2 separate regions of the Homo sapiens genome follow, and region 2 is linked to region 1. The links come from fine-mapping of genetic effects on gene expression. A gene starts in region 1. The other region holds a variant in brackets. All regions are shown on one strand. Distances are between the middles of the regions.

Region 1 (5,379 bases):
ATCCATTGTAAACACATCCATAGGGAAGAGTGCAGTGCTAATATCTCCTTTGGCTTCTCAACTCAAAAACTGGCTCTACTAAGAGGGAGCCACGTTCATAGTGAGCCCAAAAATATGCAAAAAGGAGCCTGATTTAGTTTAGACCCTAAAGTCCAAAGATAAGATCACAGTAAACACCACCCTCTTCATAAACCTTCCTGACTATCCCCCAAATAGATAAATCACTTCCATTTTTAAACTCCAATAGCACCATTTCTCTTCAATACCTGTCCTATTATCTTGTATTATAATGATTTCCTTACATTCTTGTTTTCACCAACCCGAAGGAAAAACTTCATTTTAAATATTTTTGTGTGTCCCTAAATCATGTGCACACATACACACACAATACATACATATACATGCATATATATACACACATACATATGTATATACATGCATATCACAATATATTACACATATATTAAACTGAATTGAATGAATGAGCGAATGTTTACCAAATACAAAGTAACTAAATGCCATCTCTTTAATACATCAAAGCATGGACTGCCTCTTCTGAACTATTATTTCTCTACTCAATAAGGAGATTTTTAGGTTTTCCCCACTTGAGGAACATCTCCACCTGATATGTCAATTCCTAGGTTCTTCAGCACTCTTAACTTTTCAGATTTCCATTCTCCCCTAATACTCAAAGAAAAGCAGAGTGCTACTTTGAATGCTTGAGATTACTACTTCCTTCTTGGGCTGCTGAGATATATGACTCCCATCAGGTAGAATTAAAAAGCGGTGCAACAACTCCCCACACTCCCTCCCAAAAAAGTAGCAAAAAGCTTGTTAGACCCTTTAATTTCACCATGTCTTACTCAAAGAGTGCCCCGGGTAGCCTAATTCAATAGTATCTAACACCTCTCTTCATCATCCCATACTTCTCATATGGCATATGCTTTCTCTATGGTAAAGAAACAATTGTTCTGAAACAAGTGACTTGGGGTCCCAGGGGCACCTGACAGCACCTAGTCTGCTCTTTGATGTCATATCAGGAATTTTTTAAATCCCCTTCCCAGGGTGACATTAAGCCTGCAAAATACAACTGTGTTTAAAAACAAAAATTAAGAAAAGAAAATAAAAGAACATAAAGAAAACAACCATAACGTGAACTTCCAACCTATTACAGCTGACTAAATACACGCAGTTACACACTTAAAATATTTCATTATGCTTGTCAATGAAACAGTGCAGTCCCTTCACACTACTGTAATGCTTAAAAGTACAGTTTTACCCCCAATATTTTCCCCCAAGATGCAAAGCATCCCCCAAATGGGCAGACATAAAACATTAGGTCTTCACTGCTGCTTCTAAATTTTGCGAGCCAATAAGCAATTGGTGTAAAGTGCAAAATCTCAGAAGAGCAAGACTCGTCTGCTTTTTTGTGATATGCTGTTATTCACCCTTCACCTTTACTTCCTTTAAAAATCAAAAGTTACCTAATGTTCAAGGCGATATCAATGGAAATTTAGCTAAATACTGGCACCGCAACGGTCTATTTCCCCCAAAGAATATAAGATTACATTAATTTCCTAGTAGTTTAACTCAAGTTTTACCTTTCATCTTCACCTATAGAGTTTTTAAAAGTTTCTATTCCTGTTGCATACAAAATTACTTACAATATCTGTGCATAGTAAAGAATTTTACAATTATATAAAGCCTTGCACATTTAGACGCTACCAACCTGCTCTGTCTCTCCTGACTGTGCAAAAGGCAAAAAGAGCTCAGTAATCCTAGCAGAAGAATGCAAATAACGTCAATGCACAGCTGAACTGCAAGCCCTGCCTTACAGGAACTCTCTGTGTCTGCAAAAAAAGACACATACTAAACAGGAAATGCAACTGAGCTGTGGAAAACCTCAAACTTAAAAATGCACTCGCCAGGCGAAAATTGCATCCATGCATTCATAAATGCATGCACAACCCTTTGCATTTTTGCAACTAATGCAAACAGCCTCTTACCTTTCGACTGAGACATTTTCCCCTTTCCTTTGATGGGGGAGGGGAGCACAAAAGACTTTGCCTTGCTTCTCTTCTGTAGCTAGTTTTGCAACAAAGATGCAAGCTGCAGGCGTGCAATCTTCATGCAAGTGGAGTTTCTCTTGACCGATGCAGCAGATGGACTTTCAGGGAATCAAGATGGAAATGCACACCTTGCAAAACAGACTGGAAAGTGATTTTTCCCCCAGTTGCAACGTTAGGGAAGGCTGTGCTGCAGCTACATGATGGGCCAGGGCTGGCAGCTAAAAGCTCCAAACTTGGAACTGAGTATCTTAGTGCGCAGACGTCCTTCCTGCGAAGGGCGCGAAGGCCGCTGGGTAATGTAGTTCTCCGGCGGAGTCCACGGGGCTCTGATTTAAGGAAACGTGGTCGCCCCGGTCGCTGAGCGAGATAACTGGGTGCGACAAAGATTGCGTCCAGATAAACAAGTCAGACACACACTCAGTAGAGTGATGGGTGAAAAGCGGCAAGGCCAAGACGGGGCGGCAGTTTTGTTCTCGAAAAGCCTCTGAAACAACAGCTAAAGAATATTAGGTTAGCTAAAGAGCTTTTGGCTTGTCGAGAAGGTCTGTTTGGGAGTTTAGTGTGTTGATTTTGCAGCTCAGCACCTGTTGTGCTGTTCTTGCCTGTAGACGTTTTACCCTCACACCTCCGTTTTTTGTTTGTTTGGGGGTTTTTTTGTTGTTGTTGTTGTTGTTTTTTTCCCGAGAGGGAGTCTCGCTCTGTCGCCCAGGCTGGAGTGCAGTGGCGCGATCTCTGCTCACTGCAACCTCCGCCTCCCGGGTTCAAGCAATTCTCCTGCCTTAGCCTCCCAAGTAGCTGGGATTACAGGTATGCGCCACCACGCCCGGCTAATTTTTAGTAGAGACGGGGTGTCAACATTTAGCCAGGCTGGTCTCGAACTCCTGACCTTATGATCCGCCCACCTCGGCCTCCCAAAGTGCTGGGATTACAGGCGTGAGCCACCGCGCCCGGCCACACCTCCATTTTTAAAAACATTTTTTCTAGTAAGAAAAATGTATGGATGATTGGGTTGGCTGGAGGTAAGGTTACCTTTGCTCTGTGGAGAAGATGCAAAGTTTTATTTTGTCAGAAACAATCCAGGTCAGTTATTTCCAAGGAACCCGAAACTCAGTAGGGGGTAGGTGTGGGGAAGAAGATTGGAGGCTTCTCATTTCTCACAGGGTTACAGAGGAAGTTCTGCTTTTTATACATCAACGCTAACTTTATCAAAATTAAGGTATCTAGATGATTTTTTCTCACCTGGGAGGAGAGTCCCTGGCCTAGGGGGAAAGTGGGTGGAAAATGAATACAGTCGAATATCTTGAATTTATTCATTAAAATTAAAAGATACTTGTTGAGTGTCCAGGATGTGCCAGGCGCCTTTCTAGGGCCCTGGGATGTTCATTCATTCTGTACCGCTCACACATAGTGGGTACACAGCACCCTGATGGAGAACGGCATCACCTTTTTCACAAGGAAGCCAGAGATGCTTAGCACAATTCACTGCAAGGAATGGAGAGGAGTGAGCAGGGCATGGGCAAAAATGAGCTCGGACTTATACTTCATGGAGCAGACAGACTCAGAAATGTTCTTTTAAGACAGAGGGAGGAATTGAGGAATTCAAGGAGGTGTGGACAAAGCACTGTGGCAGAAATAAGGACAACCTTACTCAGAAGCTGCCAAGGAGACCTTGTTGCCTTGTGTGCAGGAGTGGTGAGGGCGGGGGAGATTTACAGGTGAGGACTCCACAGGGCCTTAAAAGGTGGGCTAGAGGTTTGGACTTTATTCTGCAGGTACTTGCGGGGAGGTGAAAGGGTCTTGCAAAGGGGCGTAACTTAATCCAAGCATTGTTTTAAGAAAGTAAATTTGCCCTCAGCAATCAAGGTGGGTTGGAACTGGGAGAGGCTAGAGATAGGTTAGGTCAGTAGTGAAAGGCAAAAAGAGGCACTTTGAAAGAAGATTCAGCTAGATTTGATGATTACTAATGAAAACTATTGGAATTGTATTTAGGATGCTGGAAGCCAGGACCATCTGCATAAGGGATGCATTAGAGGGAAGGAAGCCGTCTTATTTCAGCTGCAAACCAGCAAATCAAATCTTAAATATGCAATAGGTTGTGAGACTAACATTAATTTACTTAAGTTGGTCCCCTTTACTGACATTCTTGACAATTAGTGAAGGCAATCTAATCTCCATATTAGCTTCTGCCCCTAAGAGGAAGGCATTGCTGGTCTGTGAACACAGGTGCAAGGACTTTCTAACTCTTTTATTGTCCTTCTAGGCTAATCCATGTTGTCCCTTCCCTCCTATCGTATACACACAAGCTCAGCACCCCCTCAAACCAGCATGGTTTCCTAAGTCTCATTTAACCAGGAGACACGTGTGAAAATCTAGTTCACTTTCCCAAACACTGATGGAGCCAGGCCCTGGGATAGCTGCTGGAGCTTTCTGTAAACTGGCTTAGCCCAGGCAGGGCCTGAACAGCCACCTAGAGCTTGCTTCAATTTGCATTTTATGTGGTCAGCTGCATTGCTCTTAAGTAGCCCCAGACTCCCTTCTTTATGGAAGAGTTCTAATCACAACTTGTCTGGTGCATTTTGCCACTGTCATTACTGCTCTTACTTTCTCTGCATAGGCGTGCGGAGTCCACAGCTGGCAAATGGATTGTAGCTTGAAAGTCAATCTGCAATTCATTTTCCCATAGCACCAACAATATGTTCAGCAGCTAATATACACACACAAGCACACATGCATACACAAAACACCTCTCATCCATAAATTGGCTGAATCATCCGTTTAAAAATAGCAAAATTTTGTATCATATTTCTTTCTGGGAAAAATGTATCCTGAATTTCAAGTAGGAAATTGGGATGACAGGGAACTCAACCTCTCTGTGAAGTCTTGGTTCCCAGAAGAAAAAGTTCTTCTTCCTGCCTTGGTGTTCAAAAGTTTCCTCTCCCACATACGTGGGTGGTGGAAGAGGAGGTACCTGTGCTCTTCTTCCTGCCAGTCTTCGTGGTATCATTGGTACTAGGAGGAGAATCCTCCCCATTGTGGCGTAAGAAGGCAGGAGTGAATTCTGGCAGGTGTCTCCTTTTATATGCACATCAAGTGTTCATCTTCAGGTGGCCCATGCTTCTGTTTTAAATCCCCCATCTTTTTTTTTTTTTTTTTTTTTTTTTTTTTTGAGATGAGTCCTCGCTCTGTCACCCAGGCTGTAGTGCAGTGGCGCAATCTCGGCTCCCTGCAACCTCCACCCCTCAGGTTCAAGCGATTCTCCTGCCTTAGCCTCCCGAATGGCTGATGTTACAGGAGCTCACCACAACACCCA
Region 2 (5,379 bases), 86 kb before region 1:
GCATAGAGCTTTCCTATGTACCAGGAACTATGCTAGGTGCTGGACCCAGTTATGAGAATCCAAATAGATATATGGCCTAATTCCAACAATTCCCATCCATGCACCTCAGCCAAACAGACAGGGAATGTTACTTTCGATGAGATTCTTCAGTGAGGAATGAATGACGGATTCAACTTGTTTAGATAACTATACAGATAACTACATACAAATTCCAGTGCAGGTGACAGATAATTCAGGTAATCCCAAAAGGCGACCCTACAGTTCTCTCAACGAAAACAAAAACTAAAGTAACATATATTTTGCCTATGAAAACTGGTCTCCAGTTGTCATTTAAGCAAACCAAAAGCAGAAGTTACTCTTAAATTCCTACATCTTTCTCTTCTTTACCTCTAACTCAGTTCTTACAAGATAGATGTAAAGAGAAATAGCTATTTATTGAGAAAACCCCTTTGGAAAACTTTAATATAGCAAGTAATTAGTAGCAATTCTTAACAGCAATTAATTATTACACCATAACTTAAATCACCAAAACATCTATACAAAGAAACAGTAAAAAAGAGAGAAAGTTTTTAGCACAGAGACCAAAGGAATAAAAGACCAAAATAATAGTAAAGTCTTCCAAGTGGGAGGAGAAGGCCTTTGATTCTCTCCCCAGATCACTGTTACACCCAGCCACCCCCACAGCCCCCCACATCAACATCATTCTTACCCTGAATTTACTGCCTCCTAGTTGAAATTGCCAGCCTCCTGTCTCCAGACTCTAAACCCTTGACTATGTATATAAGTTGGACATCTGCATATCTTAAACCTAATATTTCCAAGTATATCAGCTCCTCAGAACAACAAGAAAAAAAAATAGATCCAGGAGACACAAAACCTAGTTGAATTACAGTGTTAGAAAATACTCTGCCTTCACGTTTACATCAAATAAAATACAAATCACAAGCACACACAGCAACACTCTGCAGTTCGCTTACTTGCCCATCTCTGACAGAGCAGCACAGTAAGAGACCAGCAGAGGCGACTCTGGTGAGGTTTTCGAGGCTGCAAGGAAGACCAGCAGAGGAAAACCTAACAGAAGTCATTCTTCACTTAGCTCCAAAGACCACACTTCGGCAAGGAGAAACAGAACTGAACAGACTCCACCCCCTCCTCAAGTTCGGATTGCAGCAAACCTCTGCAAGCTCATTGTTCCGAGGAAATTGCAGCTTCAGGAAGGGAGAAGGGAAGTGGGTCTATGTGGACACCCAGGCGTGACATTAATCATTAACCAGACTTGGAGGAATAAATCTATAAATCTGGACAGTACCATGTTCTGCAGCTTTTCTATAAATGCCTCTTTGATTTCTTAAAAGAAAGAAAAACAATATGTGGTCAGTTTCCAGCTGTGTTTACTTCACAGCAATCTGTTCCCCCAGGAAGGCAGCCAACACCTGACGCTAACATTGAACACTGTTAAAAAAAAAAAAAAAAAAACATGGGAGGGAGCACTATGAATAATAAAGCTAAGTGGCCAACTATGTTCAACAGTCTTTGCCTTTGATATTCTAAAGCAAAGCAGAAAAAATGTCAGAAAAAAAAAAAGGCTTTCTATGATGTCATATGCTAGCAACAAGCCTTCTCGGAAACAGAGAATTCTGTAGATTTCTGCAGATCGCAACAAGCCTCGACTGCTTATTGGCACAGTCTGCAAAGGGTAAGCCTCGTCGGCCTGATTGGGCATATGCAGCACTATATTGCATCAGACCCTGTTACCCGCATGACTGTGTTCTCTGAAAATAGTGTAATCCCACCACACACATATATTTGCAAAATTCATCTGAAACCAAAGCAAAGCTGGGTCATTATAATCCTGGCCTGGAGCAAAATGGCACTGGAAAAAAAAATTTAAAAAGCCTTGCCAATAGTTAGAAAATATTTACCAGGCCACAGAAATGTTCGCTAGCTTTGACTGCACCGAAAATGATGGGGTACACGAGAGGTCTTGCACACACTCTGAGAGGGTAAGCACAAAGCACTCCTCTGATGTTCCTCATTACATAAAACAGAAGATTATGTTCCACTGCCAACCCAAACAGCATGAGAAGCCCACGCGGTCAACAGAAGGTGGCATCGTGAAGATATGCTGATGCCTAAATATTTGTTAGCTTGGCCGAGGGTTGGGGGCA[C/T]GACTATGAGAGTTTATGATTATTGACACAGCTTCACAAAAGGATGGCAGTGTTTCCAGTGCCAAATTTATTTTAAAAATCTGTTTCCCAATATGAATGGGATTTCCAGCCAAGTAACTGGCAATCTAGAGGCCTTGGCTGCCCTCTCCTTACTACTTGCATCTAGGCTTACGTTCCAAGGGTAGTTGGCAATAAAACCAGCAGTGAAGTATCATTCAGTGTTATTAAATTGCAATCATCATATGCAAAGCAACGAACGAAGCAGGGCAGGGGAAGAGGCATGCAGGAAGAAAGCTGGCTTTGCAACAGCAATGTAAAAGTGAACAGGGACTCTGCCATCCTCCAATCTTCCAAAACCACTGGCTCTTATATACCACTGAGATTCCAAACACTGAAGACAAATCTCTCTGGAATTACAGAAAGTTTAGAGAAGAAAAGCTGAAAACCTCTTTTTTTTTTTCTTTTTTTTTTGAGATGGAATCTTGCTCTGTCACCCAGCCTGGAGTACAGTGGCACAATGTCAGCTCACTGCAACCTCCGCCTCCCGGCTTTGTGTGATTCTCCTGCCTCAGCCTCCTGAGTAGCTGGGATTACAGGTGCCCGCCATCACGCCCAACTAATTGTTGTATTTTTTAGTACAGATGGGGTTTCACCATGTTGGTCAGGCTGGTCTTGAACTCCTGACCTCGTGATCCACCTGCCTCAGCCTCCCAAAGTGCTGGGATTATAGGCGTGAGCCACCATGGCCGGCCTTTTTTTTTTTTTTTTTTTTTTTTTTTGAGACAGAGTCTCACTTTGTCACCCAGGCTGGAGTGCAGTGGTCCTATCTAGGCTCACCGAAACCTCTGCTTCCCACGTTCAAGCAATTCTCATGGCCCTCAGCCTCCCGAGTAGCTGCGACTGGGAATACAGGCACGTGCCACCCCACCCGCCTAATTTTTGTATTTTTAGTAGAGATGGGGTTTCGCCATGTTGACCAGGCTAATCTCAAACTTCTGACCTCAGGTTATCCGCCCGCCTTAGCCTCCCAAAGTGCTGTTACTGGGATTACAGGTGTGAGCCACTGTGCCCAGCTGAAAAGCTCATTTTAAAACCTGCAGTCAGTTTGATTTCAGAGTCAGAATGAATCTCCTAAGACCTTACCTTTGCTCATACTGTTCCTTCTACCTGGAGGGCTCTAGCTGTCTTGCAGACAAGAACTCAACCTTCCAAATTCAAAACCTCCCTCATAGAACCTTCCCAGAGCTTCCTGAACACAATCTAAGGATTACTATCCACACATTCCTGCTTTCACATTCTGGCACCTTACACTCAGCCTGCAACACAATATGAGCTCAAAGCAGCTTCCCTGAAACTTTGATATTTTAGTTGAAAAATGTCCACTCTCTCTACAATAGATCTCCACGACCATCTTCCACTCATTTCCCGCAAACCTTTTCTCACAATCTAGAATTATTTTATTTTTGTATTTATTTATTTACTTCTGCATTTATTTATTACTTGTTTATCTACCTTTCTCCACTAGAATATAAGTTCCATGATGGCCAATGATTTTGCCCAGCACCTGCACATCATAAATATTTGTTGACTGAATGTTTGTTATTCTTTTCTCAACTGTTTTGAACATTTGTACAGAGCTCTTCAAAAAACAAACAAACAAAATGAACAACCAAGAATGGAATGGAAATTGCACAAACCTCTGCATCAATAAGAATCATTTCAAATCCCAGCTGTCCCACTTAGTGACGTAATGTTGAGAAAGTTTCTTATCTTAAACTGAGTTTCCACACCTGCAAACTGGAGATGATGTACAATCTCCGCAGGTCATTAAGAGACTCGATTGACACAGTGTGTGTGAAGAAGCCTAGCAGGGTGTAGCATAATATAGGTGCTCAATAAATACTTCCTTTTGTCCCTTCCATGTTTACGCTTACATTTTTAAAATATGAGTTAAGCAGAATGTTCCCTGGATGGCATCTTATTTCTTCAAATTCCGTGCTCCATTCTCCCTCTTTCGTGTTATTTACACTAGAATTACATTTTTCAAACATCTCATCAATCTTGAATCTACCTCTCTTTGTGCCCACTGACTATGGGAACTTCTCCAGGTCTATAGACTCAGGATTTCTGGGACTGAGTGTAGTGAGTGCTTATAATTTTACATTGCCTCAGTATCCATTTTTAAACCTAAGTTAAACTATCTCACATCAGAAGCAGGGCTCAGTCACTCTTAACACGGTGTCTAATACCACACTCCACCAGATTGGCTCCAAACCAGTGGCCAGACATGAAACTTAGAGACATCTCTCCTGCCTAGCAGGCTGGCCTCCCTACTTTCCTGCCACTCCCTTTAAACAGACCATGCAGACATTTGCCCACAAACGTAAGGTGACCACCTCTCAGTCACGCTGTGACCTCCTAGAACTAGTGCCTGCTTGCTTTAAACCCAGCAATTAAAGCTCCCTGCAGGAAACTGGATAACGCCCTGTACCCAATAAAGACATTGGCTCAGTGGTCCCTTCTCTCTCTCTCTGCGTGCACGTGTGTGTGTGTGTGTGTGTGTGTGTGTGTGTGTGGCTTCCAGGTGTGTGTGTGTGGCTTCCAGGCGTGCTGGGTGCCATACAGAGTCTCTAAGTGCTAAAAAGTCTTAAAATCTCACATTGTAGTTGTGTCACTGAAGCCACACTTGCAATCCTATCCCTATGGGTGAAACTGCCCCAAAAGGACCCATGCAGGTGGGTCCCCTGCTGATGCCCTTTTGTCCAGGTCTCTCAGCTACTGGGGACAGTAGTTACCAGCTAAGTTGATAGAGTGAGGCTTCAGGATCCATATATTTTTTTAAGTTTCACAAGTGTCTGAGAAATCAGCCACAGTTAAGTAGCCCTTGTCTACCACATGTCTATGTAAAGTTGTTTTGTGTTTGTTTGTTTGTTTGTTTGTCTTGTTTTACCATTTCTCACTTTATGTTGCCAACGTCACTTTCCTCCAAGGCTCTTGTCACATCCCCCACAACCCACCAGTTCTTTCTGATTAGTAAGAATTAAATTCCAAGCTAGCTCCTCACTGTGTTATCTCTATCTTTGAGCTGAAATTGTCAATCATTCCCCAGGGTACACATTGCAAGGGTCAAAACTTATTAAGATGCAATTCTGCCATCGAAGCATCAGGAGATATGAAAACCCAACTCCATAATAACAGCGGGTATGTGTGA

Direction of the effects. Positions count from the first base shown, and alleles are read on the strand shown. Sizes are in standard deviations (SD) of each study's normalised expression.
For the expression in skeletal muscle of the gene that starts at base 2,310 in region 1, allele T in region 2 goes with a higher level than allele C (moderate effect, 0.45 SD a copy in GTEx).

The links.
Region 2: its variant is fine-mapped to the expression of MAP2K6 in skeletal muscle (GTEx, PIP above 0.99).

What each region holds. Positions count from the first base shown.
Region 1 is chr17:69,411,628-69,417,006 of GRCh38, reverse strand. MAP2K6 (mitogen-activated protein kinase kinase 6) reads right to left here and starts at 2,310. Exons shown (of 12, transcript NM_002758.4): 1 at 2,007-2,310. The coding sequence starts at 2,022.
Region 2 is chr17:69,498,016-69,503,394 of GRCh38, reverse strand. All of the region lies in intron 1 of MAP2K6 (mitogen-activated protein kinase kinase 6), which reads right to left. Among named protein-coding and RNA genes, the nearest start is that of MAP2K6-AS1, 15 kb to the right of the region's middle. The variant C/T (reference allele first, on the strand shown) is at 2,169.